Homo sapiens: one gene and its partner. The protein of the gene in region 1 purifies or fractionates together with the protein of each later gene. This does not show direct contact. Each region holds a gene or a part of one and is shown on either strand. Other genes may lie near its edges. The genes, in order: CDNF and LYRM4.

Region 1 (4,608 bases):
AGACTGCAGTGCCAGATCTCGGCTCACTGCAACTTCCGCCTCCCGGGTTCAAGCCATTCTCATGCCTCAGCCTCCTGAGCAGCTGGGATTACAGGCGTTCCCGGCTAATTTTTAGTATTTTTAGTAGAGGCGGGGTTTCACCATGTTAGCCAGGCTGGTCTAGAACTCCTAACCTCACGTGATCCGCCTGCCTCGGCTTCCCAAAGTGCTGGGATTACAGGCGTAAGCCACCGCGCTGGGCCCCTTTCTTCCCATTTCTACAAATGAAGTAGTATTATTCCCTTTGGCTTTTCCTAACAAGTCATTTGACATTTAAACGCGGGACTAGTGGCAACGGAGTTCATGATTATCGTTTCTTCTGCCTCCCCACTGATGAGAGAAAGGCCACAAGTCCTGTCAGGCTCTCACTTCCAGAAAGGCCACCTCTGTAGACCACGCACCATCAACTGGCTTCACAGCCAGGCAGCTTTGCGGGACCATCAGCCCCAGCTCGACTGCAGCCTCCCCGCCCCTCCGGGACCTAGACGTTCGGGCCCAGCTCAGCGCGTTCTGCGGCCCTGCTGTCCCAGAGACCACCGCCTCCAAGTACCTCGCGGCCACAACTTTCCCAGGACCTCCCACCCGCGGGAATCCTGAGGCCCTGACGTCAGCGAGACCCCTTCCGGCATCCAGAGGCCAGGACGTCCCCGTGACCTCCCCCAAAATGCTCGCAGCCCCGCCGTCCCCGGGACCCCCCGGGACACCCAGCGGCCCCGCTGTCTCCGGGACCCCCCCGGGCACCCTGCAGCTACGTCGTCCCTGGGACCCCTCCGGGCATCCCGCCGCCATGACGCCCTGGGACCCCGCGCGTCTACATCGCCGCGAGCCTCCGCCGCGGAGTAGACGACTTTCCGGAGGAATCGCCAGGCGCGAGGCCGGGCCTGCCCGGCCCTTCGCTCCGGAGTGTCCTCGCGGCAACGCCACTCCACGACATCCCTAGGCCGGCGACACGCCGCTCTCAAGCCTGTGGATGACCCAGCGCCAGAAAACCGGGTGGCCGTCATGAAGCCCTAGCCCAGCTCCGCAGCCCCTCACCTTATAGACGGCCACACAGGCTGAGGTGCAGCCCAGGTGAACTCCGATGGCCGCCATGAGGCAGCAGGGACGGCAGCGGCAGGAATGAGGGGGTCCCCCAACAGCAACAGCTACCGGCCGCCCAACGGCCCCATCAGGCACCGCGGAGCTTCACGTTCCCGCCAGCCCCCTGCGTCCGGTCGGCCGCTACAGCCTCCCGCGTCGCCGCCAATCAGCGTGAAGGTTCCGCCTTTCTTCACGCGCAGTCCGCGAGTAGCTTCAGCGCGTCTCTGCGCTCCGCGGAAACTGCACAGTGCGCACGCGCAACCGGGGAGGGACGGGAAAAGGCTCCTACACTCCGCCCCCTTCCTATCCCTTCCTTGAGAGCCAATGGAAACTCTGTGTTCAGTTGCGTCATTTGTCCTGGCAACTACTGGCAGATTCTTTCCAACCTCGAATTCTGCTCAGCTCGCTTTGGCAGCTTGGTGGGCGGTGGGCGCGGGTGGCGGAGGCGATTGAAGCTGCTGGCCCAGCATGTGGTGCGCGAGCCCAGTTGCTGTGGTGGCCTTTTGCGCCGGGCTTTTGGTCTCTCACCCGGTGCTGACGCAGGGCCAGGAGGCCGGGGGGCGGCCAGGGGCCGACTGTGAAGGTGAGCGGTGTGACAACTGCTTGCATGGCGGCGGCCCCGCGCTGCGGCGCAGCAGCTGTCGGCTTTGGCTTCTCCTGGCCCTGGCTATAAATAACATTCCGCCCAGGAAATGCAGGCCCTGTCCCTCGTTTTAGATCGCCCAAGCCCAGCTCGAGTAAAAAGCTCAAGCCGGGCCTGGTGGTAACGTGAGGCCACGTTGTGGTTTTGCTGTGAATATTAAACTTCAGCAGTAAAAGCTGGTGGGTTTGTATTTGGATTAGAGTTTGTGCAAAGAATGCTAGATTCAGATGATACTGGCGCCAGATTGATTCTGCTGCTTCCAACCAGCAAGATTTGCCTCCCCTTGCACAGAAGACGTCTTTCAAGTCCAAGCTAGTTGGTGACTCCCCAAAGGAAAACAAAACATGGCATTGAGTTGAGTAGCTTAAATCAGAGGACATAGCTAATATTTGTTAGGACTCTGTAGGTGAAAATTGCTTTGCAAAGGAGTACACTGACTCCTTGGGAAAGAGAGGAATACAAAAGAGTGGTTCCTTTTTGTTCACGGTATCTCAGCTGTGAACTCGCAGTCAGAATACGTGAGTCTGTATCCCACCAAGTCCCCTAGCTCTGAGACTTTGGTTTTTGCAAAATCAGCGTACTTCACTTTAGAGATCTGTTAGCAAAGGCAAAGAAGGTAAGTGGCTATGCTAGCCCCTTCCTTCTGGACTCCTGTAGCGCTCACTCCATGTTTTACTGAAAATAATTAGTTTAAATGTATATGCCCTCAGCTGGAAAATATATCCCTAGTGAACAGGAAATTGTAGGTTCATCATATATGTTGAGTGAATGGATGGGTATAGTCGTACTAAAGTTGTGTTTTTGTTTGTTTTGTTGTTTTGTTTTTTGTTTTTGTTTTTGTTTTGAGACAGTCTCACTGTGTTGCCCAGGCCGGAGTACAGTGGCACAATCTTGGCTCACTGCAGCCTCCATCATCGGGTTCCAGCGATTCTCCTGCCTCAGCCTCCCAAGTAGCTGGTACTAAAGGCACCACCACCACGCCTGACTAATTTTTATATTTTTAATAGAGATGCAGTTTCACCATGTTGGCCAGACTGGTCTTGAACTCCTGGCCTCAGGTGATCGGCCCGCCTCAGCCTCCCAAAGTGCTGGGATTACAGGCGTGAGCCACAGCGCCCAGTCCTTAAAGTGTTAATAATTGGAGCCTGGCTTTCTATGAGCTCTGCAATAATTAAACTTTTCTCCAGAAATTTAAAATATCTACATGTTATTACTCGATATAAAGATATTTGTTTAGCTAAGTTATAATTTTGCTCCAAACCATGCTATAATTGTGTCCTATACTTTTAAAACAGACTTTGTGAGGCAAAGACAATTGATTTGATGACTCATCTGGGGCTCCCACTTATAAATGTTTCAAGAGAGACAGCATCTGGATTAATTAAATGGGAAGCTTATGCTGTCTGTCCTAAATTTATTACAGCATGCTGTGATTATTGCATGTCTGACTAACCTGTCTATATATTTCATTTGTTAGGTAAAGAAGCTTGTGTAATCGCAGAGGAAGGACATAACAGTTTGGTAACTAAAAGAACCAGATTCTGCATCCAGCTCTATTACTGCTTATGAGTGATCCTCCCTCCTCAGCCTCCTTTCTTATTTACAACTTAATTTCTTCTCAATGTATAAGATTAAAATGCCATATTATACATACTCTAGAGCGAAGGCAAAAAAACTGAATGGTTCCTGAGCCGTCTCGGACCTATTGATATGTTTCGTTACATTTACAAAATATTTTGAAAAAAATTAAATTCACTGGGTACATTTTAAAATTGGGAAATTTTATGTAAAAATTCATATTTCTGGCTTTTCTCAAAAAACCAGATGACCTGGCAAGATTGGCCTTATGGCTGTATAGTAGAATTGGCTATTGGCTGCTCTTTTTAGAAAGGACTTGGGTTTTGAGTAGTTTGCCGCCCCTACTCTGCCCCCGATTCAAATTGCTTAACTCTTCTTTTTCCTTGCCTGGCCCCTGTAGATATTCAAGTCTGTGAGTCCTATTATTAGGTAATGTGAGGTTTACTGGAAAAACATAAATATTTCCAAATCTCTTTTAAAGGATTATATTATGGGACTATTTTAAATAACTTTTTATTTTAAAATAATTATAGATTCACTTATAAAACTATCTTTAATAAACATAAAAGCACAATATAAATAAAAGAAGTATGGCTATCTGAGGTTATTTTAGCAATAAAGACATCCCAGAAAACTTAAGAAGCTACTAATTTGTTAGGGCATTTATGGTGAGGTTATTCTCTTCATGTAAGTCCAGAAAATGAGTTTCCTTTCTTACCTTGACTTCTTTGTGGTGTGTGACACCATTGACATCTTTCCCTTTCAGAGACTGCCTTCTCTTCATGGTCATGATACTGCTTTTCTCCTTCCTGTCTCTATGCCCACTTGTCCAGTGTGTCTTTGTGGGCTTCTGATCCTCTAGCCATGGCTTAGAATTTTCCAGGGTTCTGCTCTCTTCTCTTCTCTCTTCTCAGTCTACACACTCTTCTTGGCAACCCAAACCAACCTACCTCCAGTCTAATAAATCTCTAACCTTATATCCACTGACCTTTCTAGAGTCTCAGACCTTGCATCCAATTGACTAGTGAACATGCCCTCTTAGATATGATGTACATCAACATCAACACAGTCAAAAAACCAAAGTCATCATCTCCTTCCCTTCTCACTCCCCTAAACCTGTTACTGTCATGCTTACGGTGACAGCATGGGACAACTACCTGGTCACCTAGCCTAGATTCTAGACTTCTCTTTCCCCCTTATCCCCCAACCAATCACTACATCGTTGAGTCTACCTCCTGACTGGTCCTGCTCCTTTCTCCTTACTCAAG
Region 2 (3,812 bases), on another chromosome or scaffold:
AAAGTATTCTTTCTCTTAACCTTGGAGTCCAGGGTTTTATAAGTAGATATCTTGGCATTGTCCTCTGGTTGTTAAATTTCAACGATGAGTCTTCTCAATTTTTTATAATCACTTCTGGGACATTTCCTTCCATTATAAATTTAATTACCCATGCAGTTCAGTTTGTTCACACTTATTATTCATAGGTTATACACCTTTGCCCTATTCTGAAGGTTAATTTTTTTCTTACATATTTCTCACCAACGTATTTAATTTTTCCATGCTTTAGATTTGAATTTCTAGTTTGTCTTGTTTTAATTCAGTGTTATTGCTTCTGTCAGCCATGTACATATTCTCTAGCATTCTAATCTTTCTTTTTTTTTTTTTCTTGTTTTGCTTTTCTTAAAAGTGGGCAAATGTAATATAACTTCTATACTTTTTTTTAATTTACTTTAATAGTCATCTTACTGAGGAATAATTTACATACAATCAAGTGCATCCATTTTAAGGGTACAGTTCAATGATTTGACAAACCTAAGGGCATGTGAAAACACCGCCCCATTCAAGAGAAGGACCACTCCATTACCTCAAACCAGTCCCCTTGGGCCCTTTGTGTTAACTTGGAATGGCTTCTGTTTCTTATTTCATCTCTTTATCTACAGATCTTGTCACCCACCGAACCTGAGACCAGTACCCTAGTTATTCTCCACTGTATTCCCAGCTCCTGGCATAATGCTTATATAGTAGGCATTTAGTATGTATTTCTTGAATAAATTGTAATTTTGAATTTTGTAATCATTGCCTTCTAAAAGTTGTTTGAATCTTTTTGCTGCAAACCCTTTTTTCATTGTTTTGTTTTCATTATTGGTTATTGGTACTTTTCTTGAAGGTCTTTTTGATATTGCCTATGATATTTTGATAAGCTCATTTATTCATTAAACATGTATTGAATATCTTCTCTGTACCAGACACATACAGTGGTGAGCCAGAAAGATTAAAGTTCCTGCTATGTGGGGCTTACATTGTACCAGGAGCTCACATTATCAGAAAGAAACTTTCTGCTCTTCTTCACTCTGTTATATACCCAGAGTCCGTGTGACCTTCAAATGATCCTTGAGCTTCCTCTCCATAGGCATCGTGATCCATTTGATTATACACTACACACATACACACACCATAACCCCAAGGATGTTAAATAACTTCGAGAGAGAAGAGCCTGAACCAAGATTGGGGCTGAGGAGTTGGAGAAGTAGAGGTGATTCAGAAGGGATGTGGAAAGTTACGATTGGAAGATTTGTGATTGGTTGCATATAGGGAGTTCTGGGAAAGGAAAGAATTTAGGATGAGTCTCTAAGTATTTGACTTGGGCAGTTGACTGCATGAAGATTCTCCTACCTGAGGAAGGAAGTATTGGTCATCATGAGCACTTCAGGTTTTTGTTTGTTTGTTTGTTTGTTCTTGAGACATTGTCTTGCCCTGTAGCCCAGGCTGGAGTGCAGTGGCGCGATCTTGGCTCACTGCAACTTCCGCCTCCGGGTTCAAGCAGTTCTCCTGTCTCAGCCTCCCAGGTAGCTGGGATTACAGACATGTGCCACCGCACCCAGCTAATTTTTGTATTTTTAGTAGAGACAGGGTTTCACCATGTTGACCAGGCTGGTCTCAAACTCCTGACCTCGTGATCCGCCCGCCTTGGCCTCCCAGAGTGCTGAGATTACAGGCATGAGCCACCGCACCCAGCCAGGCACTTCGGTTTTGAATGTATTCACTGGAAGAGTCTATATTTTAGTTGACAAGTGCAAAAGGCAATTGGGTATATGGATTTGGACCTCAGAAGGAAGGTCTGGACTAGAGAAATATTGGTAGCCAATGGCATCTATATGGCAGGTGAAACCTTTGACAGATGCAATTACTGGCAGAGATCTTATGAATAAGAAAAATGGTTCACATATGTGCCCTAGAGAATACAGCATGTAAGGGGCAGCAGAATGAGATGAGCCCACAAAGGAGCTTGGGAAGGAGTAGCTAGGCCAGATATAGTGGCTCACACCTGTAATCCCAGCACTTTGAGAGGCCAAGGCAAGAGGATCACTGGAAGTCAGGAGTTTGAGACCAGCCTGGGCAGCATAGTGACACCCTCTCTCTACAAAATGAAAATTAGCAGGTCATGGTGGCATGCTGCTGTATTCCCAGCTACTTGGGAGGGTGAGGCGGAAGGATCGTTTGAGCCCAGGAGTTTGAGGCTACAGAGAGCTATAATAGGGCCATTGCACTTCAGCCTGGGTGACAGTGAAACCCTGTCTCTGAAAAAAGAAACCTAAAACTGGAGGTCTGTGTATTGCAATGAGTGCTCTTTAGACATTAAGACTTGAATATGAAGACTTGACCTCCAGAAATTAACAAGTAACAGTATCATGGAGGCATGCAACACAGTATTGTCAGATGGCATGACCTCAAAGATGCATAAGGGTGAATCAGTGATCTGAAAGCAGCAGCAGGCTCCCGGAATACACCAGCACCCTCCTCTGGGCCCTGTGGAATATGGGGACATGCTAGAATTTAGCAGCTTCCTCTTGCACATTTCAGTTAAGGCAAGTAGGTGGAGGATGTGTCCTTCCAAGTCATTGGAGGTAGATGAGTTTGCCCCACAGAGGCCAGTAGAAAGGATTCAGCTTTTATTGTTCCTAGGATACTTGAGTTCAGGTTACAGAGGACCAAGAAAAGGCACAGATGTGTTTATAGGATAGGTACACAGAGAAACCAGCACTTGAGATGCTGATGAAGATGACAGAAATGAAAGGCATTACATTAGGTGGTTTCCACATCACACATTGGATGCTAAAGCTGATATGAGCCTCCAAGTGCTCAGAGGCTGTGATTATGGCTGCATTTGGTGTTTCTGGGAGGGGACAGAGTAAAGCAGAACCTCAAGCACTGAAGAGCTTTCGTTACTGCCTGCTGTGCAACAGGGAAATTGGAGTTTTGAGTGGAAGAATCTCAGAAAAGAGTATAATCCTTGCAATGGTAAAAAGAACCTGTGGGCACTTGAGATCTAATGACAGAATGAAGAGCAAAGGCTGGGGTGGAGAAGGAAAGCCAAATGGGAGTCTCCTGTGCAAAGAAGCACCAAGAAACTGCCAAGCTTCAGGAGAGTGGAAAGGGCAGTGTGTGTGCGAGCATCATCACCTCACTGTTTCTGTGGCTGTGGGGCTGCTGCTTTGTATTTGGTTGTGTTGCCCTTTCTGCGTTAGTTTTTCATGCCGTATTTCAGACAGCGTCTGACTCATTAGGATCATCCTAATGCACAGCATTGTGTAGCACCTAGCTGCCATTTTCACAGCAACTTCTGCAAATTTTTCTTTGAAATATTCTTGCTCAGTGGTATGGTCAAGAGGCTGATAGCCAGAATCTGCAAAAAAGAAAAGCAAAGAAAAAAGAAAAAAAAAAAAGCAAATGATAAAAACCAGGGCAGGGCCAGGATTGAAATAACTGGTGATTAGCCCCCTCCCACCAAATTTGAAGATTCACTCAGATTTTTGATGACTTTCACAAAGCTGTGATCATTCGAAATAAGAATTCTTACAACTAAGGAAGAAACTCTTCATGCAGTAGTAGTTTTGTGGTTCTGAGCCAGTGAAATATTTTCCCTTAGGGCGAAGAATAACACTGGGTGCTTTAAGTGAGGCAGAAAGAGCAGGAAAGAGAGGAGGGAACCATTACAGCATTCATCTCGAAAGTGCATCGAAAATTTGAATCATGACTCTTGATTGCTTTAGACACATTTAATTCCAAGATCTAGAGCTGCTTTTCTTTAGGTAAGGACTTTGGAGAGCTGG

What was found.
Region 2: the proteins of CDNF (region 1) and LYRM4 purify together in Homo sapiens (affinity purification with mass spectrometry, with the first as the bait; one large-scale study listed by BioGRID). This does not show direct contact.

Annotation. Positions count from the first base shown.
Region 1 is NC_000010.11:14,834,926-14,839,533, reverse strand, and holds the start of CDNF (cerebral dopamine neurotrophic factor precursor), read left to right. Parts: upstream 1-1,496; 5' UTR 1,497-1,587; coding exon 1,588-1,702; intron 1,703-4,608. Other genes in the region: HSPA14 (heat shock 70 kDa protein 14), read right to left, coding at 1,075-1,131. UniProt on the Homo sapiens protein: Trophic factor for dopamine neurons. Prevents the 6-hydroxydopamine (6-OHDA)-induced degeneration of dopaminergic neurons.
Region 2 is NC_000006.12:5,219,319-5,223,130, reverse strand, and holds part of LYRM4 (LYR motif-containing protein 4), read left to right. Parts: intron 1-3,812.